7 linked regions of the Homo sapiens genome follow. The protein of the gene in region 1 purifies or fractionates together with the protein of each later gene. This does not show direct contact. Each region holds a gene or a part of one and is shown in the gene's direction. Other genes may lie near its edges. The genes, in order: GINM1, CANT1, ATP2B2, PTPRS, FLVCR1, FGFR1 and ADCY9.

The links.
Region 2: the proteins of GINM1 (region 1) and CANT1 purify together in Homo sapiens (affinity purification with mass spectrometry; 3 studies listed by BioGRID and IntAct, with this or other methods). This does not show direct contact.
Region 3: the proteins of GINM1 (region 1) and ATP2B2 purify together in Homo sapiens (affinity purification with mass spectrometry; 3 studies listed by BioGRID and IntAct, with this or other methods). This does not show direct contact.
Region 4: the proteins of GINM1 (region 1) and PTPRS purify together in Homo sapiens (affinity purification with mass spectrometry; 3 studies listed by BioGRID and IntAct, with this or other methods). This does not show direct contact.
Region 5: the proteins of GINM1 (region 1) and FLVCR1 purify together in Homo sapiens (affinity purification with mass spectrometry; 3 studies listed by BioGRID and IntAct, with this or other methods). This does not show direct contact.
Region 6: the proteins of GINM1 (region 1) and FGFR1 purify together in Homo sapiens (affinity purification with mass spectrometry; 3 studies listed by BioGRID and IntAct, with this or other methods). This does not show direct contact.
Region 7: the proteins of GINM1 (region 1) and ADCY9 purify together in Homo sapiens (affinity purification with mass spectrometry; 3 studies listed by BioGRID and IntAct, with this or other methods). This does not show direct contact.

What each region holds. Positions count from the first base shown.
Region 1 is NC_000006.12:149,564,779-149,569,291, forward strand, and holds the start of GINM1 (glycoprotein integral membrane protein 1 precursor), read left to right. Parts: upstream 1-1,596; 5' UTR 1,597-1,636; coding exon 1,637-1,756; intron 1,757-4,513.
Region 2 is NC_000017.11:78,999,589-79,003,670, reverse strand, and holds part of CANT1 (soluble calcium-activated nucleotidase 1), read left to right. Parts: intron 1-4,082.
Region 3 is NC_000003.12:10,334,494-10,338,575, reverse strand, and holds part of ATP2B2 (plasma membrane calcium-transporting ATPase 2), read left to right. Parts: intron 1-217; coding exon 218-400; intron 401-2,275; coding exon of another isoform or gene 2,276-2,447; intron 2,448-4,082. UniProt on the Homo sapiens protein: ATP-driven Ca(2+) ion pump involved in the maintenance of basal intracellular Ca(2+) levels in specialized cells of cerebellar circuit and vestibular and cochlear systems.
Region 4 is NC_000019.10:5,330,632-5,334,713, reverse strand, and holds part of PTPRS (receptor-type tyrosine-protein phosphatase S isoform 1 precursor), read left to right. Parts: intron 1-4,082. UniProt on the Homo sapiens protein: Cell surface receptor that binds to glycosaminoglycans, including chondroitin sulfate proteoglycans and heparan sulfate proteoglycan.
Region 5 is NC_000001.11:212,882,039-212,886,120, forward strand, and holds part of FLVCR1 (choline/ethanolamine transporter FLVCR1), read left to right. Parts: intron 1-1,332; coding exon 1,333-1,400; intron 1,401-3,254; coding exon 3,255-3,358; intron 3,359-4,082.
Region 6 is NC_000008.11:38,423,271-38,427,352, reverse strand, and holds part of FGFR1 (fibroblast growth factor receptor 1 isoform 1 precursor), read left to right. Parts: intron 1-1,107; coding exon 1,108-1,231; intron 1,232-2,653; coding exon 2,654-2,844; intron 2,845-4,082. UniProt on the Homo sapiens protein: Tyrosine-protein kinase that acts as a cell-surface receptor for fibroblast growth factors and plays an essential role in the regulation of embryonic development, cell proliferation, differentiation and migration.
Region 7 is NC_000016.10:3,966,299-3,970,380, reverse strand, and holds part of ADCY9 (adenylate cyclase type 9), read left to right. Parts: intron 1-3,414; coding exon 3,415-4,082. UniProt on the Homo sapiens protein: Adenylyl cyclase that catalyzes the formation of the signaling molecule cAMP in response to activation of G protein-coupled receptors.

The sequences.
Region 1 (4,513 bases):
GCTGGAGTGCAATGGCGCGATCTTGGCTCACTGCAACCTTCGCCTCCTGGGTTCAAGCGATTCTCCTGCCTCAGCCTCCCTAGTAGCTGGAATTACAGGTGCGTGCCAGTATGCCTGGATAATTTTTGTATTTTTAGTAGAGATGGGGTTTCACCATGTTGGCCAGGCTATTCTCGAACTCCTGACCTCAAGTGATCCACCCGCCTCGGCCTCCTAAAGTGTTGGGATTACAGGCGTGAGCCACTGCACCCGGCTTCTAGATTCCTTTTTTTTTTTTTTTTTTTAATAGACTCAGGCGATCCTCCTGCCTGCGTTTGCTGCATAGCTGGGAGTACAGGCACAAATGACCACGCCCATCTCCAAATTCATTTTTAATTCCAGCAGTAGGAAAAAAAGGAAAAGGCCAAGTTTGCAGATGGAACCCAGAAGTGTGTGGGGCTTCGCTGTGAAATCACTTGTAGCTTAACAATGGCGTGGGGAATCTCAGAGTAAGCCCGGAGTTAGTTGAAAGGAGTCTTTAGCCAAAACGTTTATAATTTATTCTGGGGCGGGGCCGGGGGAGGGGGCGGTGGCGGTCAGCAGGCCTGTGGGAGGAGGGTGTTCAAAGGAGTAAAGGGGGCTCAAAGAGAGAAATAGATTCTTGTTTCCTTTTTCATGTCAAAAGTTTTATTTCATGTCAAAAGTTTTATTTCAAAGGAAGACTAAATATTACTCTTATTCTGCCTGAATGGCCAAGTTTCCAAGTTTTTCTCAATCAACATGCAATCCTGTTAATCTAAAATGCTTGAATTTCTTGCTACTCTGCTTTACAGGGTTCCGTAACTTTTTTTTTTTTTTAAATCTGCAAGGTGGAAGAAAAGTCTAACACTTTCACTTTAGAGTTACGATACTGACCAAAAAGGCACTGACAGCCCAGGTGCGCTGGCTTCCTTCCAGCTGAGCGCTGTCCCCGCGCCGCCTCCAGGGGTCGGCAGAATGCTGAACAGTAAGCATGGCGCATCCTCAACCTTGGCCCCACAATGAATCACCCGAGAAAATTAAAAAACCACCAGGGCCCGAGCCGCAGCCCAGGCTGGAAAGTGGGGTGTTCAGGAAGACCCCAGTACTTTTTAAAGCTGCCCGGGAGAGTCCCACGTGCAGCCAAGGGTGGGGAATTACCCACTTAATAAAAACTTCCCCTGTAAATGCGATGTTTCATTTTTAATGTATAACAGTTTTCTGAAATATTACCGTTGTTTTCATCGTATAGGTACATGTACATGTGCACACACAGACACATGCATGTGTGTAAATACTAATTTTAAAAATAATGGTTACGAGGACATTTACATCGCTCCAGTTGGAGTCCTGTCCAATCCTGAGGGCGGGTCTAATGAGGGGCCGTACCTTCCAAGATTTCACTCCGCCCCTCGACGCCGCGCGGCGCTGCGCGTGCGCAAACGCCTTTCCCTGGCGAGCCGGATCTCGGAGCGTCCCCGCGCCTCTCCGCGGCCGCCCGGGGAGGGGAGGGCCCGTCCCGCCCCTCCCCGTCTCTCCCCGCCCCTCCCCGTCCCTCCCGCCGAAGCTCCGTCCCGCCCGCGGGCCGGCTCCGCCCTCACCTCCCGGCCGCGGCTGCCCTCTGCCCGGGTTGTCCAAGATGGAGGGCGCTCCACCGGGGTCGCTCGCCCTCCGGCTCCTGCTGTTCGTGGCGCTACCCGCCTCCGGCTGGCTGACGACGGGCGCCCCCGAGCCGCCGCCGCTGTCCGGAGCCCCACAGGTAGGGCAGGGCGGGCCTGGCTGGCCGCTTTACGACTCCGACTCTCCGGGAGGCCCGGGCTGTCCACAGTGACGCTTCCCACATCCCACCGGCGGGCAGGGGCGGGGGTCCGGGCCCCCGAAGGAGGTGTGGGGAGAAGCACCCCAGGAAATGGGGGCGGCGTGGGAGGCCGAGGTAAGAGGAAAGGGACCCACTGGGGCTGCGTCGCTGTGAGTGAGCCTCGAGCCACTCCACACCGACTCTCCGGCGGCCCAAGCCGGCGCGCGACCTGACGGGGCTTTGCCGTCGAAGCGCGCGGTTGCCGGTGATCAGGCCTTCGTAATGGCGCCTTCCCGGGGTAGAGCCAGCGCTTGGGCAAGGAATGTTTGTGTGCTCGGGAAGTGTGGAAGTTGCCCACTTCGCGCATTTCCAGGCCACTTGTGCCTGCTCGGCCTGCGATCGCGAGGGTCCGCCGTTCCGAGGCTGCGGGGCTCCGCCGGGCTCAGGTGGGCAGAGGGAGAGACCTGGCCCTCGCGCGACGTAATGTTTTTGTCGGATGTTGGAGGAGAAGTTCTCACGGCGGGGCGCGATCGGCGGTGTCCGCATCCCCTGGGGACTCAGCCCGGCCTCTGGGGGCGGGGCCCAGCAGTCCGGGTTGGAGAGTCCTGCAGGTGCTTCTGATGCCAGCTGAGGTGGGAGAATCGAGGCATCCTAACATTAAAACGTGGCTGATGCTCACCATTCCTGCCGTAGAGTCGTGCCTACCTAGGCCAGTATCAGCCTTTTTTCAGTAGAATGGTAGGGAAAAGTTTGAATATTTTAAAGAGCAAGTGTTCTGAGAATGACAAGAAACTATGTCGGTACACCTCTTCCTAGTCAAGACTTGAATATGAACACTCTAAATACAAAGGCGAAGGGCACGGTAAGTGTCACTTTGACCAACAAGGTGAAACCCCGTCTCTACTAAAAATAGAAAAATTAGCTGGGCGTGGTTGCAGGTGCCTGTAGTCCCAGCTACTCGGGAGGCGGAGACAGGAGAATTGCTTGAACCCGGGAGGCAGAGGTTGCAGTGAGCCGAGATCGTGCCACTGCATTCCAGCCTGGGTGAGGGAGCTCAAAACAAAACAAACAAACAAAAACAAAAAAACCAAGTGTTAACGTTTTAGGATAATGACATTACCCCACGTGGGTACAAAAATGATGAGCATGTCTCAGTTCTGCAGGGCATTCCAAGAAGCCACGACATTGCCTGCCATAAGAACCACCTATATCTGAAATTATATGTGGACCACAGTTGCATCTGGTTAAACAATAGGAATGTGATGGACAGGCACCAAGGGACCAAATAAAAGTGAAATAGTTCTAAAAAGTTCTGGAAATACGGACATTATTTTCCTATTTTTCAAGTTTTAAAGATTCATAATTGACACCTATGTGTCAATGAGATGTTTACGTCTATATAATCTGCGAAAAATACATTTTGACTGCAGGCTTAAAATACACTGCATTGTCGGCTGGCTCTTAGTGATGATTTTACTATTTCAGTTCTCCCTTCTTGGGCCTTCATTTCACTTTCAGAAAGTCCAGATCTAAACTCGGAAATTCACATATTACGCTGGGTGCAGTGGCTCACGCCTGTAATCCCAGCTACTGGGAATCCAAAGCCAGAGGATTGCCTGAGACCAAGAGTTGGGTGTTGGATGATAAGCCTGGTTAACATAGCAAGAGCCTGTCTCAACAACAAAAAGTTTCACAGATTAAATGAGTGCTGAACAACTAGAAAGAGAATCTCATTACCTGGACTGTGTCTGTGGGAAACTGAAGTCCCTTGATCTAAGTCTTCTCAACGTCTTATTGTGAAACATTTCCAATAGGAAAGAATTTCACAGTGGTCCCACATATTGTGTAAGTGCTGTCCAGTAGAACTTTCTGCCTTGATGGTTATGTCTTTTCTCACCTTGTGGGTAGCCACTAGACTGCTGTGGCCACTGAGCACTTGAAATGTGGCCAGTGCCAGTGAGGAACTGTTTTTAAATTTTTATTTAATTTTAATCAATGTAAATGTAAATAGTCACAAGTGATTAGTGTGTACCATATTGAACAGTGCAGAACCAGACTACCCTTAACATTACTAGCTTTATCACATCTGTCCATCCTCGTTTCCAGTCTGATATAAATTAAACTGGTTGAAGTCAGGAAAATTCTGCCTTCTTCCGATGACTCAGATTTATTGGACTATAAGCATTTTTCTGTTTTTATGTATGCAGTTGTCAGAAGTTGAGGTAATACAAGATTGCACATAAGATTGAAAAATAAAAGTCTTTTTTTTTTTGAGACGGAATATCTCGCTCTGTCTCACACAGGCTGGAGTGCAGTGGCATGATCTCGGCTCACTGCAGCCTCTGCCTCCCAGGTTCAAGTGATTCTCCTATCTCAGCCTCCTGAGTAGCTGGTACTACTGGCGCGTGCCACCACACCTGGCTAGTTTTTGTATTTTTATTTTTATTTTTTTATTTTTTGTTTTTTATTTTTGAGAGAGAGTCTCACTCTGTCTCCCAGGCTGGAGTGCACTGGCATGATCTCGGCTCACTGCAACTTCTGCCTCCTGGGTTCAGGTTCAAGTGATTCTCCTGCCTCAGCTTCCCAAGTAGCTGGGATTACAGGCTCCCGCCACTGCGCCCAGCTAATTTTTTTATATTTTTAGTAGAGATGGGGTTTCACCATGTTGGCTAGGTTGGTCTCGAACTCCTGACCTCAAGTGATCCACCCGCCTCAGCC
Region 2 (4,082 bases), on another chromosome or scaffold:
GATTATCTAAAATCAAACCATTACTCTGCAGGCACTGGGTTTGTCAATCTTTTCACAATAAAGCGAGCATTTAAACTGCTTAAGCTTTGAGGGGTGTAGGGAGAAGCCTCACACGAGCCCCTTCTGGAAAGGACTTTGTCCATCTTGTGTCTTACCCTCGCCGGTTCATTTCTGTTGTTTCTGGCTGGCAACAAACAAAAGAGCCCCCCCACCCCCCACCCCCGAAAAAGAACCCAGCTTTTTAAAGAACATGCAAACTCTTGCCTGCAGCAGGCGCCGGCAGCCAGGCACCCCGGCAGCCAGTGGTAGCTCATACACCAGCATGGGCTGTGGCAAAGGCATCTGATTTGAAATTTTTTTGCAAAATAAAATAATTCCTTGGGGTCCTGAAGGAGAGATGAAGCCCAAGGGAAGGTGTTCTGGTGCTGAAGTTAAAGGAATTTTCTGGAAGGTACACAGAGTTCTCTTGTCACTAGAAGCAGTCCCTTGTTTAACCAAAGGTGGCTGAGGCCCTGGCGTCTCTGCCCCTCTGTTAGCTCTGGGGAATCAGCGTGACCTCGAGGTAACACTGACCACACGGGACTGTTCAAAGTCTGTCTCCCCAACTGTGCTGAGCTCCTGGAGGAAAGGCCCCTGCCTCCGTCACACTGATTCCCCAGAGGGGCAGAGACGCCGGGACTCAGACACCTCTGGTTCCATGTGGTCAGAGGACATGAGCCTCCCGGGTGGGGAGCGTGTGCCACGGTGTAGATGCCAGGAGTCTGGAATAGGAAGGCGTGCAGTGTTGCACAGCGACCTGGGAGAGGTCCTGCTCCTGGGAGTGCAGGGGGAAAAACCCACTGAGGCTTTCTCTGCAGGCTGAGACGTTTGTCCTTCAGATGGAAGGCATTGGGATCTACTAGACTTGGAATCCAGACTTGCTTTTTGGAAAAATTATTCTGTCAGTTTTGTGGAGGGTGATTTGAGATGGTCTTGACCAGGGATCTGTCGAGGGACAGGGAGTCAGTATTTTCAGCCTCCACAGTCTGTTGCGACCACTCAACGGTGCAGCCAGACTCAGCATGCCAGGGAGGAGTCCTAGCTGGCTTTAATCAGCCACATCTACACACCAGGACGTGACTACACAGCAGGCCGCGTCTACGCAGGCCGCGTCTACACACCAGGCAGAGTCTACACACCAAGCTGCAACCACATACCAGGCCACACAGGCCGCATCTACACACTAGGCGGGAGACTGCATTTGGCCCACGGGTGGTAGTTTGCAACCCTCCCAGCAGGCGAGAGGGTACTTGTAGAGTGAGTGAGAAGCAGTAGCAGTCAGCCCCTGTGCACAGTTCTCTAACCCCATCAGCATGGCTCCGGGAAGTAAACTGAGGCCAAGGGAAGTCCCTTGGCTGAGCCCAGATGGTCTATATCAGGGGTGTCCAATCTTTTGGCTTCCCTGGGCCACATTGGAAGAAGAATTGTCTTGGGCCACACATAAAATCCATTGATAGCTGATGAGCTTAACAAAAAATCTCATCTCATCATGTTTTAAGAAAGTTTACGAATTTGTGTTGGACCACATGTTGGACAAGCTTGGTCTAGATCATTAGACCAAGACTCTGAGAGTCATCAGGGTGAGATGGAACTGGAGCCGAGGCTGTGTGGATGGGGAGAAGGGAAGCGAGTCTCAAGCTGGGTGGGACACGTGGGGCTGGGGAGGGAGGAGGGTTAGGACGAATTGCTTCCTGGGATGGCTCCTGAGGGCCGGCACTGCCAGGACAGGGAGTTCCTGAGGAGGACCTGGTTTGCGGTGCCTGTGGGTATCGGATGAGGAGGCTCAGAGACTAGGTCAGGCTAGAAAGGCGTGGGGGTCTTCACCTTAGAGGGCAGGCCCTGGGAGAGGTCAGTGGGCTGCCAGCAGTGGGGGCCGAGAAGACCTGCCTGGGAGGAGGCCCACAGAGAGTGCCCCCCTGCCTCGAGGAGGGACACTGACAATGTGCTCACTGGGTTTGCCACTGGTGAAGGCTTCAGGTGGCTGCTTCTGAGGATTAGCCAGAGGGAAGGAGAGGGTGTAGGTGTGGGTGCTCTTGTACCATGGTGGGCGAGGGGGCCTGGGCGGGGGTGGGAAGGGACAGAGGTGCCGGGGACTCAGGGAAGGGTTTTCCTTCATTAACAGATTCGCCATTTATTCAGCAGCAGTTGAGTGTCTGTGGGAGTGTGGGGTCTGGAGGTAAAATGGTGACAAGGTGGGCGACTTGGGGCAGCCTGTGGATGGAAGGGAGGAACCAGAAGAGCAGGTGCCCGGCGGCTGGGGGGACTGACCTGAGTGGCAGGTGTGAGCCCCACCCAGGGGCCTCGGCTGCTGAAGTTGGCCACAGAGTGGTCTCCTGGGAGAAGTGGGCCGGAGATTTGACAGGAATGGTGAAGGTGAGGACAGTGGCTCTCCGGAGTGCTGAGGGAGTTGAACAGGGAAGAACATGGGGGTTCCAGGGGCTGGTGACGACGACACCTCACGATGTCTGACAGCAGTCTATGCAGGCACCGTTGTTCTGTGCTGGCAAGCACCGTCTTCCCGGGCCTGCAGCTCAGATGTGGCAGCTGAGCAGCTCGATCTTTGGGGTGCTTGATCCAGGTTGTGGGTTCATAATATGCCTAAGGTGGGGCCCCCGGTAGAGTGCAGAGGGGCTGTTGAAGAAGTGGCTAATGGCTCACCTGGCATCTCTTTCCCTTCAGCCAATGCGTGCAGACTGTCTGCTCCCTGCCTGGCAGTGCGTCAGGTGCTGGGGCTGTGACAGTGGCCAGATCCCTGCCCCAGGAGCAGAAATAATCACCTAGCCAGGCAGGGACGGTGGGAGAGCCGGAGCGGCATGGGAGGGAGGGCGAGTGGGCAAGTCTTCCCAGGGAGCTGATGCCCCGTAGGAGAGACCGAGCTGCTGGTGCGAAGAGCAGGCCCGACTGTTCCAGGCAGGGGGAACTGCAGGCTCTGCCAGGGCCAGTGTGGTCAGGGGACAGAAGGAGGTCTATGTAGCCAGCCGGCAGGCAGAGGAGATGGTACAGTGTGAGGGCTGAGCGGGAGCAGAGTGGGTTCACCCCAGGACCTGAGGAAGCCGCTGAAGCTGGGAGTGTGCCATCTGATGGATGCTACTTCATGGCAGGTGGCGAGGGAGTGTCAGGGGATGTTGGTGGGGGGCAGCTGGCAGGGCAACTTCATGGCGGGGGGTATGGGAGTGTCAGGGGCGGAGAGGCAGGAGGGGTGGAGGGAGGCAGCCGGCATGGCATGGTGAGGAAGGGCCATGGAAGAGGACAGAACCTGTCCACGGAGTCAATGCTGAGGAAGGAAGACGGAGGATGAGGCCAGTCAGGTTTTTCGTGGTGGCAGTGCCTTATGTTTTTATCGAAGTGTATATTCACACAGAAAAGCACATCTCCCAGGATCCTGAGAGAGCTTGAACCAGACCACTGTGGACACGGTGGCCACCCGTCACCACTACCCTTCCCAAGGGGAGACGAGGAGCAAGTAGGCTTGAGGGAAAAGCTGCACAGGACTCGTGTCTTGAAATGTCTAAGACGCATGTCAGAAATGCAGGTAAGGGGGGGTGCGGGTGCTCGCACCTGTGATCCCAGCACTTTGGGAGGCTGAGGCAGGAGGATCACTTGAGCCCAGGAGTTCAAGACTGGCCTGGACAATATAACGAGGCCTCATCTCTATAAAAAAAATTAAAAATTAGCTGTGCCCCAGGTGTGTTGGCTCACACCTGTAATCCTGGCACTTTGGGAGGCCAAGGCAGGTGGATCACCTGAGGTCAGGAGTTCAAGACCAGCCTGACCAACATGGAGAAACTGCATCTCTACTAAAAATACAAAATTAGACGGGCGTGGTGGTGCATGCCTGTAATCCCAGCTACTAGGGAATCTGAGGCAGGAGAATCACTTGAACCCAGGAGGCGGAGGTTGCAGTGAGCCGAGATCGTGCCATTGCACTCCAGCCTAGGCAATAAGAGGAAAACTCTGTCTCCAAAAAAAAAAAAAAAAAAAAAAAAAAATTCGCTGTGCGTGGTGGCACACGCCTGTAGTCCCAGCTACTTGGGAGGCTGAGG
Region 3 (4,082 bases), on another chromosome or scaffold:
GGCAACAAGAGTGAAACTCCATCTCAAAAAAAAAAAAAAAAAAAAAAAAGACATTGTCAAAGACTGGGCTGAGGAACAGGTGAGGTGGGTGAAGGAGTAGATTGATCACATGCCTGGGTGAGCGGGTAGGAGGAGGGAGGTAGAGGAGCGGGTGTCAGGGAGAGAAGGCCACTGGGAAGGACAGCCCCACCGTCCTGACAGACAGGGTCCCTTGCAGGTCATCGCCACCATCCCGACCAGCAGACTCAAGTTCCTCAAGGAGGCAGGCAGGCTCACACAGAAGGAGGAGATCCCGGAGGAGGAGCTCAACGAGGACGTGGAGGAGATCGACCACGCGGAGCGGGAGCTGCGGCGGGGCCAGATCCTGTGGTTCCGAGGCCTGAATCGGATCCAGACACAGGTACAGGAGGCTCTTGGGGGCTGGGCCCAGGCCTGGCCGGGGCGGGCCAGGGGATGGAGGTGAGTGTGCTTGTGCTGCCCCCCAGGGCCCAGCTCTGGTGCTGAGGGAGGGTGGCTACAGAGGGGTCCCGGCCAGCTCTCACCAGCCACTTGCACACCCACTCCTGTGGCTGCTAAGGAACAGCACGGCCTCCTCAGAGAGGTCCCATTGTGCCCTCTCAGGGCAGCACGGGGAAGTGGTAGGGGTCACACCCACCATGGTCTCCAGGGGGATTTCCCTGAGAGGGTGGGGAAGGGTGGCTCTGAGGGCAGAGGTGAGTGAGGGGACTGTCGCTCAGGGCTGGGGGCACCCACCCACAGGGGCCGTGTGAGGCTGGACAGAAGCTGCAGGCCAGGTCGCCCAGGGTCCCCCAGGGCGTGGTGGTCAGGGGGTCCGCCGCCTCCACGGGGGCTTCAGTTGCTCTCCCCAGCTTCCCCTAGGGGGTGGAGAGGCTCTGGGGAGCAAAGGTCAGTCATCCTCAAGCACACACAGACACACATGCACACACCAAGCACACCAGGGGAGCACAGGTGCAGGGCGTAGCCAGCCAGAAGCAGGTTTCTTCCCCAGAGCAGAGAGAGCATGGCTGCCACGTGGCACACGACACACCTGCGCGCCTCCCCCGACCCCCCCACACACATACCACATGCTCTCACATGGTCCCCTTATGCCTGGAGCAGGTGTTGTAGCTCACAAGTGCTGTCACAGCCCTGCGAGGGGAGGGTCAGAAGGGACTCTGTGGGTCTCTTGCCCAGACCATCTGGGGAGCTGGAGTGGGAGCTCCTCCATGCCCCAGCATGCTTGGGCGAAGTGCAGTGTAGAAGCAGCCACCTGGCCACCATCCTGCCAGCTGTGGCCCAGCACCTCATTTCCATCCGATGTAGCAGAGAGCTCACCTGGGTCACCTCCCACCCCTCTGTACCCTGTCCCAAACCTCACCTCATGTGACCTTCACAGCCCTGGGAGGTAGATGTGACTCCCCCAGTTTTAGAGGTTACCAAGGTCCAGGAGATGGCCCCTTCTACTGAGCTGGCACAGCTGGGGTGGGGACTGGAAGCCGGTTTCAGACCCGGAGGTGCCTGACACGGGCCTGGGCTCACCCTCCCTGGTTAGGGCCCCGCAGCCACCCCTCCCAGCCTGCCCCCACCTCCTGGGAGGTCCAGGACAACTCAGTGAATATGTCCCTGGTGCTGTCACTGCCCTGGCGGCAAAGCCACGCAGGGGTCTCCAGATTACGGGAGGAAGCAAGGACTGCGATTTCTTGAGTGGGCAGGGGCGCCTGTCTTGCCTGCCTCTTGCGGAATGCTAACACGGGTCAGGTGCTTTGCCACTTACAGATAACCCTGCCAGGCAGGTGGCATTGACCCTTCTTAAGAACAAGAAACTCGACTCAGAGAGGTGGCTTGCCCAAGGTCAGCTAGCTAGTAAGTGACAGAGCTGGAATTTAGGCCAAGCTCTGTCCACCTCAGGACCCCCACCACACCCTCTACCTCCACGCCTGTACCTGAGGGAGGCTGAACACTGCTCTCTTCCCTCCAGATACCATGTTTAATCACTGCCTCCCCCACTGGCCAGCCCACTGGCCCCTGAGCCACTAGCACAGGACAAAGGCCGGACCCCCTGTGTCCTCCCGGGGACCCTGGGGCCTGCAGGTGGGCCCAGAGCTGAGCAGACGTTTTTCAGAGCCTTGGAGTGTGTCTGGTATTTTTGTTTTGATTTAAGTGACATTGTCGTTGTTGCCGTGGCTGCGGCTGTTCTTGTGACGTTGCCCTGTCAGTCATGTAGCCGTTGTGCTCGTTCTTCTCGCAACTTGTCTCGTTCTCTCCTCCGTTGCAGATTGAAGTAGTCAATACTTTCAAGAGCGGGGCCTCCTTTCAGGGGGCCCTGCGGAGACAGTCCTCGGTCACCAGCCAGAGCCAGGATGTAGCCAATCTCTCTAGCCCTAGTCGCGTGTCGTTGTCCAATGCTCTTTCCTCTCCGACCAGCCTTCCTCCTGCTGCAGCCGGGCGTGAGTGTGACTCCTTACTGCCTCCGGCTGGCACTGCCCACGCCAGCTCCCAGGCGGGCAGGGGCTGGGGCACCAGAGGACATGGGGGGCAGCCGGTCACAATCAGGCCCAGGGGGATGAAGGGTCCCAGCCACCGAAGAGGGTCCCGTTGGTCAGGAGAGCGTAGCCAGTCATGCGGTGGCAGTCACTCAGTGGACCAGGGTCAGTCAGAGGGTCATTAGGGTCCCAAGTGGCCAAAAAGTCTGGTTCAGTCAAGGGGTCACCCTTGGTCAAGAGGACATCAGTGACCAAATGGTCCCAACCCACCACAGGGTCCCGGCAGCCAGAGGGGGACAGACATGGAGGGGACACAGAGTGTCCCACTGGCCTAGGGTCATATGTGGTCAGGAAAAGCCTGGACCACCAAGGCAAGGGTTGGAGTTGGACAAGAGGTCCCAGTCTTGCAGTCAAAGTCAGCAGAAGGGTCACTGTGGGTCAAGGGGAGCAAGCCCCTTAGGGTCCCAGTCAGTCACATTGGGATCCACCCAGGAGAGGGTCACGTCAACCAGACTTTCCCAGTTGGTCAGGGGGCACCCACAGTAATGAGGGTCATGGTCAAGGGGGACAGTTGAGCCAAGAGGTCACTGCAGGTCAGAGGTCATAGTCAGCCAGGGATCCCCAGGCCACCTAGGAGCTCACAGCCTAGACGCTGCACCCCAGCAGTTCAGAGTCTCTGCCCGCTTCCTGTCACTCCTCCCCTTGCACTTTTGACTGCATCAGCTGCCCTGCAGACACCTTTCCCTGTGGCTGAGCTTGGAACTTGCTGAAGTTCTAAGCCCTTCCTGGAAAGGACAAGGTCCCTGGCCCATTCAGCTTGACCCCTGGTAGAAAATGGTGGGTCGAGCCTCACATCTTGCCTGGGTGCCAGCAGGCCCAGAGGGACCTGATATGCCCTTCAGCATCCTGCCCTCCTTTATCTGAGAGATAGCCTGGGACTGTGGCCCCTCCTTCATCTCCCTCCTGCCAAGCTCATCTCCTCATGCCACCACTTCTGATCTAGATCACTCATTGCTGGCTTTGTCTAGCTCTTTCCCGGACCCATGGCTTCGGGCCCCATAGGGAACAAGTCTGTCTTTCCTCCCATCGCCCTGCTATGTTTCCAGTCAGGCGCTTCTGATCTGCAGGGGAGCCCCTGGTTCTGGTCTTCTCCAATTGGCATAGTGTCAGTCTTAGCCTCCAGCTTCTTTGATGAGAAGTAGACTCCAGCTCACCCCTTGAAACTTTATAAAGGGCCTCTACCCCCATCCAAAACCAGAACACCCACAACACAACCCCTGCAGCCAAGCAGGTAACCCGGTGTGCTGGTGGGAGCGCCTCCCTCAGTGCCTCCAGTAGGAGGCGCGGGCCACAGGGAGCCTGTTGATGGCAAATGTCCACGACCCATAGCGGCAGGACAGAAGCAGAAAGCAGGGAAGGAGCCTCTCAGTGCTCATTCGTCAGCACAGAAACGCAGTGCTGGGGAGGACCGGGGAGCCAAGATGAAATGGAGATGCATTTCAGCAGATGGTGGCTGAGTCACATTTCCATGAGATACCGTCACTAGGCAGTCACTGCCAGGATTTCTCGGGGAAGGCAACACCGGTCCCATCCTCCTCC
Region 4 (4,082 bases), on another chromosome or scaffold:
GCTCTGCCCGATTGTCAGGGATGTTTGTTTGGACAGCAGTCCATCTGCTGCGGGGGCCACCTGAATCGCTACAGAGACACCCCCCGCACACACACACCCCAGGGCTCTTGACTGCCTTTTCTCAGAGGTTAAGAGCAAGGATGCTGGACTGAGGCTGCATGGGGTTCAAATCCCGGCTCTGCCGACTTGTTGGCTGTGTGACCTGGGGCAAGTTGCTCAACCTCTCTGTGCTTCCGTCTTCCTCATCTGTCTATGGAGAAGAGTAACAGTGCCCACCTTGAGGGATTGTTAGGAGGAAGAAATGAGTTAACGTGTGTAAGCACAGATTCAGAACGGCACCTAGAATGTAGCTGCCACCTCTATTCTGTTTTTGTTATTATTTTTGACAACATGGGAGCTACACTGATATGTTGAAGGACCTGCCCAAGAGGGGCTCTCCAGTGTCCACCCGCGCCCCGCTACCCCGCCCTCAGCCCCCCGATGGGGTCCAGCACCAGGGAGATGTCAGGATGACTCAGCCACTGCAAACTGGGGCGTTCCCCTTCACTGGCTGCTTAATCAAGGCCGCCCCACTTCTGCGGCAGGACTGGGCGACTGGCGGGAGCTGAACCACAGGGGGCCTGGATGGTGGACAGGGAGGACACGTGGCTGCCTTGGGAGCTCCAGGCACTCCAGGGACTCCACATGTGGCTCCCAACTTCCAGAGCCCCTGGTGGGCCCGAGTGATCACCAAAGGGGGGAGTTTGGGGGGGATTTGGGGGTTTAACAGCAGTCATTTGATGGGCACTCAGGAAAGTGATCGGTTGACAAGCATGGTGTGCGAGCGAGCATGCATGCATTCATTCGAATATTCACCAGTTCATTAATTCATTCATTCCATCAGGATTGCTGGAAACCTGCTGCTAAGGAACTTGGAAGCCAGAATCTAAGCAGCTGTGGGGCTTGGGCTAGTAATAAAGCTGTTCTGTGCCTCAGTTTCCTGATCTGTAAAATGGGTGCTTTGACATTGCCTCTATCATAAGTGGAGACAGATGAACTGGTGTGGGGGGCACCAAGGACAGAGACTGAGAGTGGCACCTGCTGCTTTGTGGCTGGAGGTGAGGGGGGCGGAAACAAGAAGAGAAGAGTTGACTTTAGCTGGGGAAGACCACACAGGACCCCCCACCCCAAGGAGTTCGAATCGCATTGTGTGTGTGTGTGTGTGTGTGTGACAGGACTCACACTGTTGCTCAGGCTGGAGTGCAGTGATGCCATAATGGCTCACTGCAGTGTCTTAACTCCTGGGCTCAAGCAATCCTCCCACCTCAGCCTCCCAAGTAGCTGGGGACTATAGGCATCCACCAGCACGCCCAGCTGACTTTTGTATTATTATTATTATTATTATTATTATTTATTTATTTTTTTTTTGTAGAGATGGGTTTCACCATATTGCTCAGGCTGGTCTCAAACTCCTGGGTTCAAGCTATCTGCCTGCCTTGGCCTCGGAAAATGCTGGGATTCCAGGTGTGAGCCACCACACCTGGCGAATTGGCATTTTTTATTTATTTTTTATTTTATTTTATTTATTTGAGACAGTCTTGCTCTGTCGCCAGGCTGGAGTGCAACGGCGTGATCTCAGCTCACTGCAATCTCCGCCTCCCGGGTTCAAGTGGTTCTCCTGCCTCAGCCTCCCGAGTAGCTGGGATTACAGGCACCCGCCACCACATCTGGCTAATTTCTGTATTTTTGGTAGAGATGGGGTTTTACCCCATTGGCCAGGCTGGTCTCAAACTCCTGACATCAAGTGATCCGCCTGCCTTGGCCTCCCAAAGTGCCGGGATTACAGGCGTGAGCCACCGCGTCTAACAAATTGCATTTTTTAGATGTGCGGTCAGAGTTCTCTGAAAGCCCCCAGAGCTGGGCTGCCAACATCAGGATCAACAGAAAACCTGGAATGTTGGGAATGCTTCTTGGAACATCTGTCAGGCCAAGGCCCAGAGAGGGAGAGCAACTTGCCCAAGACCACACAGCCATGCCTGCCTGCCTGCTGCTGGGCCTTGCGCAGGAGGATGGACAGGGACCCCTTTCACCAGTCCAAAGGGAGAAACCGAGGCAGGAAGCCATGGCGGGTGTGTGATTCTCAAGCCATAACGCCTGTCAGGGCTGGAGTCTCCACTCCAGCGGGTCGTATGGGCCAAAAAGGCTTCTTCAACCTCCAAGGAAGCCCTGAATGGCTCCAGGGCCAGATCTGTTGGTTTTTCCAAGGAAAAGCAGAAATCTAGATTTTAAGTAAAATTGCCCAATTTTGGCTGGGCATGATGGCTCACGCCTGTAATCCCAGCACTTTGGGAGACCAAGGCAGGCAGATCACCTAAGGTCAGAAGTTTGAGACCAGCCTGGCCAACATGGTGAAACCCCGCCTCTACTAAAAATACAAAAATAATCTGGGCATGGTGGTGCATACCTGTAATCGCAGCTACTTGGGAGGCTGAGACAGGAGAATCGCTTGAACCTGGGAGGCGGAGGTTGCAGTGAGCTGAGATCATGCCACTTGCACTCCAGCCTGGGCGATAGAGTGAGACTCTGTCTAAAAAAAAAAAAAAATTGCCCTATTTTAACATCCTTGGGTTGAAACATCTTAACATGGCACAGTACAGAAATCCAGGGCCACCGTGGACTTTGACCCCTTCCCCAACAATTAAAAGTTGCGTGACTTCTGACACCTCCATTGCCGTCCGCGGGCCTCAGTTTCCAGGCCTGTGAAATGGGTTTAAGACTCCCAGCCACCTCTGCGGTTCTTTAGAGGCACCAGTGTGATAGCTTACAGAGAGTGCTGAGAACAGGGCCTGGGCCAGCGTCCGCGCTCGATAAACGTTGGCTCTGATTATATTAATATTGGTCATAATGATAAACTTGACTTAAATTAAATACTGCGTAGAAGGAAGCCGGCTGTCCCGCGGGGCAGGGCTGCGAATTATCTACTGGCGGCAGGACCTGCTTCTCCATCCCTCGTTCTTTCTGTAGCGCAGTCGTTTGCTCTTGGGGCTGGAGCACCCGGGTTACCAGTATTACTCGTTGAGTGTACTGCTGTGGTTCTCAGCCGGGGTCACTTTTGCTCCCCTGGGCACACTTGGCAACGTCTGGGGACATTTTTGGGTGTCATGTCCAGGGGGGTGCTGCTGGTATGGAGTAGGTGGAAGCCAGAGATGCTGCTCAACTCTGTGTAATGGCCAGGATGACCCCATCCCAGATAATGACCCCACCCTCATGTACACTGTGCTGAGGTTTAGAAACCCTGATTTTGCCAGGCATGGTGGCTCACGTCCATAATCCCAACACTTTGGGAGGTTAAAGCGGGAGGATTGCTTGAGCCTAGGAGTTCAAGATCAGACTGGGCAACACAGTGAGACCTCATCTCTACAAAAAACAAAAAAAAATCAGCCGAGGGTTGGGGTGCACACGTACGGTCCCAGCTACTGGGGAGGCTGAGGTGGGAGGATTGCTTGAGCCTAAGAGTTTGAGGCTGCAGTGAGCTATGATTGCATCACTCCACTCCAGCCTGGGCAACAGAGCAAGGCCTTCTCTTTTTTTTTTTTTTTTTTTTTTAAAAAAAGAAGCCCTGACTTATGCTGAAGACCCAAGACAGCGAGAGAAATCAGGCAGATGGTGCCTTTGTCCCTGAGCGTCCACCCAACACGCTCCCTGACGTCTCGCGGGGCCAGAACGCTTAGATTGCTAATGGGTTCCCTCTGCACATCTGTCCTGGTTCCACTGCCCCATTGATTATTGGAAGTGGGTAATTGCCCCTGTCGGATGAATTCTAGAGAGTGTGAACTGCCGGGGTTTCCGGCAACAGTGCTGGCTTCAACTCCCAGATATCAGCAGGGTGCAGAGAGGCTGCCAGGTCCCAGGACTTTTTCTCTTGGCCCCATCTGGCCCTGGGAGCCCAGACTCCGGCCCTGCTGGGGAAGGGCATTAGGGGTCTGAACGCCCCAGGTTCGGATCCTGACAAAGACCCTCCCTGGCTGTGTGAGATGACCTCATTATTTCCTTCCCCTGAGCCTCAGTTTTCTCATCTGTGAAATGGGGACGAGTCTTGCCTG
Region 5 (4,082 bases), on another chromosome or scaffold:
AGGATGTGGAGCAGTAGGAACTCTGCTGGTAGTATGAACGGATAACAACTACTTTGAAGAGCAAATTGCTTATATCTAGAAAGTAGAAGGTCTACTCTAGATATATACTTAGAGAAGCTCTTATGTATAAGAACAAAAACATAATACTCATTGCAGTCTTGTTTTAAACAGTGAAAAACTAAAAAAGAAACCCTTAAGTGTCTATTGACAGGACGAGATAATTAAATTGAAGTATATTAACATAATAGAATACTGTACAACAGAAAACTAATGAACTACAACAAAAAATATCAACATGGATACATCTCAAAACCATCTCAATATAGTGTAACAAGAGCAAGTTGCAGATGGATACAAATAATATTTATATACTTACAGAATACTTCTAATTGTTTATGAATATGCATATATGGTAATATATAAAATGATAAGCACCAAGCTCAAGCTAGGGCTTGACTTTGGTAAAGAATAGGATTGGGAAAAGTCTGAAAAATGAATCTGAAGCAAAGATGGAAAAATGTTAATGTTTGCCAAATCCGGGTGATATATGAGGATATTTGTTGTATTCTCTATGCTATTTTATATTCTTAAAATATTTAATAATAGATAAATAATAAACTTAAGTTTTAGCTTAATTTAGGTTAAGAGTCTTACCTAAATTCATACAATACATGCTAGGAGACATCAGGATTCAAACCTATCCTGTGCTTCTCATAGCCAGTTGTTTTTATTGTTCACTTCTAAAGTATCCTTTGGGAGGCGAGGCAGTAGAATTGCTTGAACCCAGGAGACGGAGGTTGTAGTGAGCTGAGATTGCACCACTACTCTCCAGCCTGGGCAACAGAGCAAGGCTCCATCTCAAAAAAAAAAGTATTAACTGATTTTGTCTTATGAATTTTCAGTAAGTCTTTGATACAAAAAGGTAAGATCTCTGAAGCACAGTTTCTGTTAGGCTTTGCACATTTGTTGGCTGTAGTAGTACATTGTAGGAATTCAGTAAACAATCCATTGCTTGACTGGTTGCCATATATGTGTTGCATGTGGGGGTATGATTTATGGTCAGTATATCTCAATCTAAATAATAATAGTATTAGGACAGAGTTCTGCTATTACATCTTTAGTACAGTTAGGTGTTAAATTCATTAGTCCAGGTTCTGAAAGGGAATGACAATGGTTTTTAATTTCCTTTATCAACTGTGTTAAGAAATGTATTTCCACAATTGTCACATAATATTCCATGTCACTTCATGAACTGGTAAATGACACACTTTTAGTATTCTCTTTATTATTGTAGGTATCATGACTTAATATCATCTTTATTTATTATTGTAGGTATCATGACTGGTGCCTTTTATTCAGTCTCAACGTTATTAAATCAAATGATATTGACATATTATGAGGTAAGCTTCTGCTTATATCAGATTGCATGCCTGGCCAAAAATTTTTCTTTAGCAATATAATTGTCGTTAGCAGGGTCATGAGATTAAGGGTTATGACATTGTTGCTATCAAATATTTACATTTGTTTTAATTGAGAATATATTTGTTAAAAAATGAAATTTCCACAACTTTATATATCTAATTGGCTTTTATTATCAATTCGTTTATTGGACAGCATCCCATCTAAAGATTTAGAAAGGTACTGATGAGCTGAGCAGAGGAGATGGGCTTTATAGGCAGAAAAAGGCTGAAGAAAGCAGAAACAAGGAACAAAGAGCAGATTGGTTGCTACAAAGTTACTTTCCTTATAGGAGTAAAACAAAGGGGACTGGGCCCCATCTGATAGGTTGCTATGAATCTCCTTTTTTTTTTTTTTTTGGAAAAGTGGCCCATTTTAAAGTTCAGTTTGATTATGTGACACCTAGCACTAGTGACACCATTCTATGTGGTCTGGTCTGTTGGGCCTACTGTGGGAGCTCACTCCAAAACAATGGCCTCCCATCATTTTAATTTAACATATTTAATCCAGTTTATAAAGCACATAGTATGGCCAGGCATAGTGGCTCACGCCTGTAATCCCAGCACTTTGGAAGGCCGAGGCGGGTGGATCACCTGAGGTCGAGACCAGCCTGACCGACATGGAGAAACCCTGTCTCTACCAAAAATACAAAATTAGCTGGGCATGGTGGCGCATGCCTGTAATTCCAGCTATTCGGGAGGCTGAGGCAGGAGAAACACTTGAGCCTGGGAGGTGGAGGTGGCGGTGAGCCGAGATCGTGCCATTGTATTCCATCCTGGGCAATAAGAGTGAATCCCCATTTAAAAAAAAAACAGGCTGGGCGCCGTGGCTCACACCTGTAATCCCAGCCAAGATAGCGCCACTGTACTCCAGCCTAGTGACAGAGTGAGACTCCATCTCAAAAAAACGAAACAAAACAAAATACACACACACACAATATGGAAAGCAGAAGTTACTATCCCTGTGACAATACCTAAGTTTATTTTTAGGAAATAATATGATTGGTTATATGGAAAAAGACAAAACATTTTAAGGGAACTCAGCATAAATATAGATAAATAAATATCAAGTTTTGATTGACGTATCTGCTTTTGAAAGGATAAAGCAGTTGTACTATGTAAAAGCTATCGATTAACCTCCTTTTCAGATATCTATACAGTGTCATACCTTGCTTAGTGACAGGAATACCTTCTGAGAAATTCGCTAGGCAATTTCATTGTTGTGTGAATATCATAGAGTGTACTTACGCAAACCTGATGGTAGAGCCTGCTACATACCTAGGCTACGTGGTATAGCCTATTGCTCCTAGGCTACAAACCTGTATAACATGTTATGCTACTGAATGTTGTAGGCAGTTGTAATACAATGGTAAGTATTGTGTATCTAAATATATCTAAACAGAGAAGGTAGAATAAAAATACAGTATTATAATCTTACAGGATCATACTGTATATATGATTCAGAGTTGACCTAAATGTAATTATGGAGCACATGACTATCTATACTTAAGAATCCTAACAAAAATCATTGTACTTCTAACCATAGAGGATTAAGGAAAATTTACCTTTTTTATTTCTTCTATTATTTTAGGCTTTTTTTCTGGTTTTAAAATATAATGCTTTTATATATTCTTTACCTGCCCTCCCCTCCCACACTGACACATGTACTAAATCTTCCTACTGTGTGCTTAGTTTTATCTAATTATTTTCATTGACTATGAAAAGGTGTGGGAATGTGAAGAGTCTGAATTAGTTAATCCATTTATTTGATCAACTTCTTACGCAAATTTTTTTCAGGGAGAAGAAGTCAATGCTGGAAGGATTGGGCTAACGCTAGTAGTAGCTGGAATGGTGGGCTCTATTCTTTGTGGCTTATGGCTGGATTATACTAAAACATACAAGTAAGTGAAAGTAAATACATGTATGGTGTATAACCAAAGGTATTTTGATTTTAAAGGACAATTTGCTTTTTATTTCAAGAAATTTAAAACATGTTATTACTTAAAGATACGGATTCTAAACACTAGTAGGTTCTCTTCACTTAACAAGTGTTTCTTTTTTTTTTTTTTTTTTGAGACGGAGTCTCGTTCTGTCGCCCAGGCTAGAGTGCAGTGGCGCAATCTCGGCTCACTGCAACCTCTGTCTCCCGGCTTCACGCCATTTTCCTGCCTCAGCCTCCCGAGTAGCTGGGACTACAGGCACCCGCCACCATGTCCGGCTAATTTTTTTATATTTTTAGTAGAGACGGGGTTTCACCTTGTTAGCCAGGATGGTCTCGATCTCCTGACCTTGTGATCCACCCGCCTCGACCTCCCAAAGTGCTGGGATTACAGGCGTGAGCCACCGCGCCCAGCAACAAGTGTTTCAATACTCTATGTATTGTATTATTTTATTGGTCACATTTATTTCAATTCTGAGAACTTGGATACCTTATGAGCCCCTTCTTTCTAACAGTACTCATACCTACCACTTCCGAAGGAATTATTTCTATTCTAAAAAGAGCCATTTCTGAGAAATATTTGACTTTTGATAGACTTTATCTTGTTCTTTTTTTTTTTTTTTTTTAGGTGGGGTCTCACTCTGTCACCCAGGCTGGAGTGCAGTGGCACCATCTTGGCTCACTGC
Region 6 (4,082 bases), on another chromosome or scaffold:
AGCTGAGATCACGTCATTTCACTCTAGCCTGGGTGACAGAGTGAGACTCTGTCTCCAAAAAACAACAGAAAAAGTCCTATAATTTAATGAACTATTTTGTGATATTAGGTATTTTCTGGTTTTTCACCATAATAAATAATGTTGCAGTGAATCTCTGTCAGCATTTTTTTAAGCGTGCTTCCTTAGGACAGATTGTTACAAGTGAAATTACTAACTTAAAGGGTGTAAGCATTTTTTTTTTTTTTTTAGACGGAGTCTCACTCTGTCACCCAGGCTGGAGTGCAGTGGTGCCATCTTGGCTCACTGCAAGCTCCACCTCCCAGGTTCATGCCATTCTCCTGCCTCAGCCTCCCGAGTACCTGGGATGTGCAGCCACCATTCCCAGCTAATTTTTGTATTTTTAGTAGAGACGGGGTTTCCCCATGTTGGCCAGGCTGGTCTTGAACTCATGACCTCAAGTGATCTGTCCGCCTGGGCCTCCCAAAGAGCTGGGATTACAGGCTTGAGCCACCGCACCCAGCCAGAAATATTTTAAATTAATTCACCATGCACTCACTACATGCAAGACACCATGCTTTAAATGCTGCAAGATAGCGTTCCTGCCCATAAAAATTTTGCAGTCTGATAGGAGGCAAATGTCCATGAGCAGCTACCGTAAAAAGTAGACTGTGATCAGTGCTTTGGTAGGCAGAGAGGAAAGGGTGAGCACAGTTCTGACCAGAGACTGGACTGGAGGAGATGGTTTTTGAAATGAGCTGTCAAGGACAGTGGGGGCTGGATTCTTAGTGTAATAGGAGAGGTGCACAGTTGGGAACATTCTTGGTGTATTTGGGAGTGTTTGCAGAAGGCACATCTGTCCGGATCACGAATGATCTTGAACGTCACAGTGGAGACTTCTGGAGTCTTTACACCCCATCTGCCAGCTTGCAGAGTGTGAACGGGCTGGTAGGGGGGCAATCCACGCCTTGTCCTAGCCAACCCTGCAGCCTGGGGCCCTGTGCCACCAGGCTCTGATATGGAGGGCAGGTGCCACGGGGTGCCGACATTGTCATGGGGCCTGCATTTTCCTCTGGACCCTCAATGTATCCCTTTGGCATTTCCCCTCAGGTCCGTTATGCCACCTGGAGCATCATAATGGACTCTGTGGTGCCCTCTGACAAGGGCAACTACACCTGCATTGTGGAGAATGAGTACGGCAGCATCAACCACACATACCAGCTGGATGTCGTGGGTAAGAGGGCAGAGGCAGCAGGAGGAATGAGTTTAGTGGGAAGAGCCAGGCTTGGAGAACACAGCCGGGGTGTCCAGGTTTCTTAGGGGCAGAGTCAGGATAGCGATTGGCACTTCTTGGCTTTGTCACCTTGAGCAGGTCACTTCTCCCTTTTGAGCCTCACTTTTCTTATCTGTAAAATAGAGTTAAGATCAGACAGTAACACGGTCAAAGCTGGTTGTCACTGTGAAATTGAAGGTGCTGTTCAGAGTCTGTCCTGAAGGAGGCGTTGTTGGAGAGGTGTTAAATGTAGCGTAATAGGAGCTGTCGCTTAATGCTAGCAAGATGCCAGGCTCCTTAAATACCTGCCCTGTAATGCTCATGGCACACCTGCAAGGTGGGCAGTATTAGTCTAGCCCTGCACAGGAGCACAGGCGCATAGGCTCAGAGAGGTCAGACACCTTGCTAATGCAGAACTGCACACCTGTGCCAACTTCAGGGCATCACAGGAGACTCTGGGAAGAACATTGAGCCTCTTGGAGCTATTACCGCAACCTTTTCCTTCTAGGAGTTCTGAAACTCACTCCCTAGAGATCATTGGGTACAGAATCTCTCAGCCAGTGTTCTTCTTGATTATGATGATATGGTCTAAGAAGGAGATTGTGGCCAGGAGCAGTGGCTTATGAGCTCCAGGTGGCATGATGGGATTACTCACGCCTGTGATCCCATCACTTTAGGAGGCCAAGGCTGGAGGATTGCTTGAGGCCAGGAGTGTGAGACCAGCCTGGGCAACACAGTGAGACCCTGTCTCTATAAAAAAATTTAAAAATTAGCCTAGTGCAGTGTCATGTACTTGTAGTACCAGCTGAGTTAACTGAGGCTACTGAGGTGGGAAGATCACTTGAGCCCAGGAATTCGAAGCTGCAGTGAGCTATGATGACACCCTTGTGCTCCAGCATGGGTGACAGAGTGAGACCCTGCCTTTAAAAAAAAAAAAGGTAAAAAGGAGATTCTGATCCAAGAGGTTGGGGTAAGATCTGAGATTCCGCGTTTCTAACAAGCTCCTAGGGGATGCTGGTAGCACTGCTCGTGGACCACACTTTGAATAGCAGGAGTCAAAGTGACTCTGGTTTTTTAAGGAGGAGCAGGTTGTGCTGAGGTCTGGGGGTGCAACTGAATTAGAAGGTTCTCCATTAAAGCATGAGCGACTTACTGTGACTGTAAATATGATGACTGCCTTGGGGAGGAGGATCCTGATGGCTTAGGGCCTGAAGAGAGGGTGTCCCTTTCCCCAGCTCTGTTTTGAGAGGCTTGGGCTCAGCAGAAGTGCTGGGAGGTTTACAACCCATCACTGGGAAAGCCAAGTGGGGCGCAGGTGAGCCCACCCCTCTTTAGCCATGGCAAGGTCCCCATGACAAGTGCCTCCTCTCCCATCTTCCACAGAGCGGTCCCCTCACCGGCCCATCCTGCAAGCAGGGTTGCCCGCCAACAAAACAGTGGCCCTGGGTAGCAACGTGGAGTTCATGTGTAAGGTGTACAGTGACCCGCAGCCGCACATCCAGTGGCTAAAGCACATCGAGGTGAATGGGAGCAAGATTGGCCCAGACAACCTGCCTTATGTCCAGATCTTGAAGGTAATCATGGCACCAGTCTTCGTGGGCCAGTCTACTGGGAAGGAGACCACTGTCTCGGGGGCTCAAGTTCCTGTGGGCAGGCTCAGTTGCCCCCGAATGGGATCATTCCTCACGCTTCAGGCACACACACTCCATCTCAGTAGGGATCTAGCCACATCCCCCAGGACTAGTAACAGAGGTCACAAAGTGGAGGTGAGCTGGGAACAGAGGGCTGCAGGGATGGGTGGTGCTGGTCTGTAATAAGCTTTGAGAGCAACGTCACTGGGGCTTTGGGGTCAGCTACACAAGGAAGGCATTTGGACCCCTGCCTTTTCATTGCCCGAAACCAGAGCCTTTCCACCAAGCGTTTCCCAGTCTTAGCCCTGTGTCCTGAGTTACGTACGATCTTTCTGGCAAATGGGGTGCATGATAAGAGCATCTCTTACGAAGAGTTGGAAAAACAAATGCCATATATAAATTCTAAGCCATATGAGGACGAGGAGTAATGGCATTTTCTTCCTTTTTCCTCTCACTCCCAGACATTCATTGTCCCTGAATGCTCCATTAATCCAGGGAAGGTAATTGCCTAAATCTCCAGTGGATCTCGCAACAGGAAGGAACCAGAAGCTGGGAAAGTTGTTTACCTCTTTGTCCCAGAGTTAGACCTCATCCTCCCCTAGCTTAGCTGTCTCAGAGATATACTGGCCCTCCCTTCTCTTCTCTTTGCTGCTGGTGCTAAAACTGCTCTGTAGGTCATTGGCCACTGTCTCCACTCACAACCCCTGCTCCAGTCCTGGAGGGAGTGGGTTAAACACAAATAGAACATTCCATTTGAAGCAGTGATTCTTTTTTTTTTTTTTTTTTTTTAATCAAATGCTTTGGACTTTTGAAGTCCACTTGTTCTGTACTTGTAAAAGGGAAAGAAGGCCGGGCGCAGTGGCTCACGCCTGTAATCCCAGCACTTTAGATCACTTGAGGTCAGGAGTTTGAGACCAGCCCGGCCAACATGGTGAAACCCCATCTCTACTAAAAATACAAAAATTAGCTGTGCATAGTGGTTGGCACCTGTAGTCCCAGCTACTCAGGAGGCTGAGGCAAGCTAACTGCTTGAACCCAGAAGGCAGAGGTTGCAGTGAGCTGAGATCACGCCACTGCACTCCAGCCTGGGTGACAGAGTGAGTGAGACTCTGCGTTAAAAAAAAAAAAAAAAAAAAAAACTAAAAGGGAAAGGTAATAAATCTCACTTAACATCTCCCTTC
Region 7 (4,082 bases), on another chromosome or scaffold:
ACTCCAGCCAGGGCAACAGAGCAAGAAAGAAAAAAGAAGAATTGAGTTTTGGCCAGGCGTGGTGGCTCATCCCTGTAATCCCAGCACTTGGGGAGGCTAAGGCAGGCAGATTGGTTGAGCTCAGGAGTTCAAGACCAGCCTGGGCAAGATGGCGAGACCCTGTCTCTAAAAGAAAAAGAATTGAGCTTTCCAGTGTGATGGAGCTGTCTAAACTGTGGATCCGCCAGTCGCATATATAAGTATATAGTGACCAAGCCCATTATTGCATCAAATCAACTGGCCTACTCTGTGCGCGGGAGGAATGCATCAGGGTACAGCATTTACATGAACAGAACAGTCACGGTGTTGTAAAAAAGAAAAAGACTAGAATGCAGTTCAACAAATGTTAATAGTGATTGCCTCTGGATGGCAGGACGATGGACAAATCTTTTTTGTCTATTTTTTTCTACATTTTCTATGATGAGTATGTAGTATTTTTAAATGGGAAAAAATGTATTCCAGCACACTGGGGAGGCAGAAGCAGAACAGTTTGAACCCAGGAGTTTGAGACCAGCCTGGGCAACATAGTAAGACCTCATCTCTACAAAAAGTTCAAAAAATTAGCCAGGTGTGGTGGTGTGTGCCTGTAGTCCCAGCTAATCTGGAGGCTGAGGCGGGAGGATCGCTTTAGCCTGGGAGGTCAAAGCTGCAGTGAGCTAGGATCGCACCACTGCAGTCCAGCTTGGATGACAGAGACAGACCCTGTCTCTTCTTAAAAAAAAAAAAAAATACATATATATATATATATATATATATATATATATATATATATTTCAAACAAACTTTAAGAAATTGTGCTACTCAGCCAGGTGTGGTGGCTCACACCTGTAATCCCAGCACTTTGGGAGGTCGAGGCGGGCAGATCACTTTAGGTCAGGAGTTTGAGACCAGCCCAGCCAACATGGTGAAACCCCGTTTCTACCAAAAAAAAAATACAAAAATTAGCTGGGCCTGGTGGCGCACACTACTCAGGAGGCTGGGCCGCAAGAATCGTTGAGCCCAGGAGGTGGAGGTTGCAGTGAGCTGAGATCACACCACTGCATGCCAGCCCGGGCTAGAGAGTGAGACTCTGTCTCAAAAAAGAAAAAAGAAAAAGAAAAAAAGAAATTGTGCTACTCACCACTCATCTGCAGCCCCCTGACCATGGCTGTCTCCATCAGTGCCACTGAAGTGGAGACAGCCCCGCTGAAAGCAGGCTCAGTTATCAAAGGGAGCAGAGACTGGGCGCGGTGGCTCACGCCTGTGATCCCAGCACTTTGGGAGGCCGAGGCGGGTGGATCACGAGGTCACGAGTTTGAGACCAACCTGTCTCTAGTAAAAGTACAAAAATAATCTGGGCATGGTGGCGTGCACCTGTAGTCCGAGCTACACAGAAGGCTGAAGCAGGAGAATTGCTTGAACCCAGGAGGCGGAGTTTGTGGTGAGGCGAGATCACGCCACTGCACTTTAACCTGGGCAACAAAGCGAGACTCCTTCTCAAAAAAAAGAAAAAAAAAAGCAGAAACTGGTTCAGCCTTGTTTAGAAGGGCAATTTGGAAATTTCTAAGGAAATTCTAAATGTGCAATATTTAAAATGACTCAGCACTTCCATACGCACAAAGATAGGGGTAGGGGAATATTCCCTGTGACACTGTTTGTGGTAAGAAAAGACAGACTCGGGCCCAGTTCCATCAGGGGGAATCTGGCTAAATTACAGAATTTCCGAGTGCTGGAACACTGCACAGCCATGAGAAAATAATGGCACTGGTTCAGATGTTAGCATTGTCCTGAGTGATTTCGGCAAAAAGAACTAACCCAGAATCAGGGGAGATGGCGTCTTGTCAAACTTTTTTATACAGGTAGAGAGTATAGAACTCATAAAAGCTATTTGTAAAATGATAAGTTTATTGGATTAGAAATCTAAGAACCAAGGCCAGGCGCGGTGGCTCACACCTGTAATCCCAGCACTTTGGGAGGCTGAGGTGGGCGGATCACCTGAGGTCGGGAGTTTGAGACAAGCCTGACCAACATGGAGAAACCCCGTCTCTACTAAAAATACAAAATTAGCTGGGTGTGGTGGCACATGTCTGTGAACCCAGCTACTGGGGAGGCTGAGGCAGGAGAATCACTTGAACCCGGGAGGCGGAGGTTGTAGTGAGCCAAGATCTCACCAGCAACAAGAGCAAAACTCCGTCTCAAAAAAAAAGAAATCTAAGAACCAAATATATCAGAGAATGTTAAATTTCTTGGGTATGATGATGATATTGTAGTTACATAGGGAAATATCCTTATTCTTAGGAGATACATGCTGAAATATTTAGAGCTGAAGTGCCATGTCAGCAACTTACTTTCAAAAAGTTCATTCAGCAAAAAGCCGGGTGCAGTGGCTCACACCTGTAATCCCAGCACTTTAAGGCAAGCTGATCACTTTGAGATCAGGAGTTTGAGACCAGCCTGGCCAACATGATGAAACCCTGTCTCTACTAAAAATACAAAAATTAGCCAGGCATGGTGGCACACACCTATAGTCCCAGCTATTCAGGAGGCTGAGGCAGGAGGATCACTTGAACTCAGGAAGCAGAGGGTGCAGTGAGCCAAGATCGCACCACTGCACTCTAGCCTGGGCAACAGAGCAAGACTCAATCTTAAAAAAAAAAAAAAAAAAAGATGTTAGGCCAAGCACAGTTCAAGCCTGTAATCCCAGCACTTTGGAAGGCCAAGGTGGGAGGATGGCTTGAAGTTACGAGTTTAAGACCAGCCTTGGCAACCAGCAAGACCCTGTCTCTTCAAAAAAAAAATTTTTTAATTAGCTAGGTGTGGTGGTACATGCGTGTAATCCCAGCTACTTAGGAGGCTGGGCAGGAGGATCGTTTGAGCCCAGGAGTTTAAGGCTGCAGTGAGCCATGATTGTGCCATTGCACTCCAGCCTGGACAACAACCATGTCTCTAAAAAAACAAAGGAGAGAGAGAAAAGAAAAGATTTTTGAAAGAAGCTAAAGACTTCTAAAAAAAAAGAAAAAGAAAAAGAAAAGAAAAACGATTACCAAGCACTTACTAAAGATGTTAGTTACAGGGCTGGGCACAGCAGCTCACGCCTGTAATTCCAGCACTTTGGGAGGCCAAGGCAGGAAAATTGCTTGAGCCCAGGAGTGCAAGACCAGCCTGGGCAACACAGTGAGACCCCACCTCTATTTAACAAAATGAAATCAATCAGTTTCAAAAGTTAGTCTTTATCCCTCCATACCTTCAGCCAGCCCAAACCAGGAATGGGCAGCTTGACAGCTTCAGGTTGTTGAAGGCCTGGACTCAACAAAGCTTTGCGTAGCTAGCGGGGCTGTTCTGAGCTTGGAAGCGCCGAGCAGTAACCTCTCCCTTTCCCGTGTCTTTGCTCTCCAGTTCCGAGAGGAACCCGTGCAATAGTTCGGTGCCGCGTGACCTCCGGCGGCCCGCCAGCCTCATCGGCCAGGAGGTGGTTCTCGTCTTCTTTCTCCTGCTCTTGTTGGTCTGGTTCCTGAATCGCGAATTTGAAGTCAGCTACCGCCTCCACTACCACGGAGACGTGGAAGCGGATCTTCACCGCACCAAGATCCAGAGCATGCGGGACCAGGCAGACTGGCTGCTGAGGAACATCATCCCCTACCACGTGGCTGAGCAGCTGAAGGTGTCCCAGACCTACTCCAAGAACCATGACAGCGGAGGGGTGATCTTCGCCAGCATCGTCAACTTCAGCGAGTTCTACGAGGAGAACTACGAGGGCGGCAAGGAGTGCTACCGGGTCCTCAACGAGCTCATCGGGGACTTTGACGAGCTCCTAAGCAAGCCGGACTACAGCAGCATCGAGAAGATCAAGACCATCGGAGCCACGTACATGGCGGCGTCAGGGCTGAACACCGCGCAGGCCCAGGACGGCAGCCACCCGCAGGAGCACCTGCAGATCCTGTTCGAGTTCGCCAAGGAGATGATGCGCGTGGTGGACGACTTCAACAACAACATGCTGTGGTTCAACTTCAAGCTCCGCGTCGGCTTCAACCATGGGCCCCTCACGGCCGGGGTCATCGGCACCA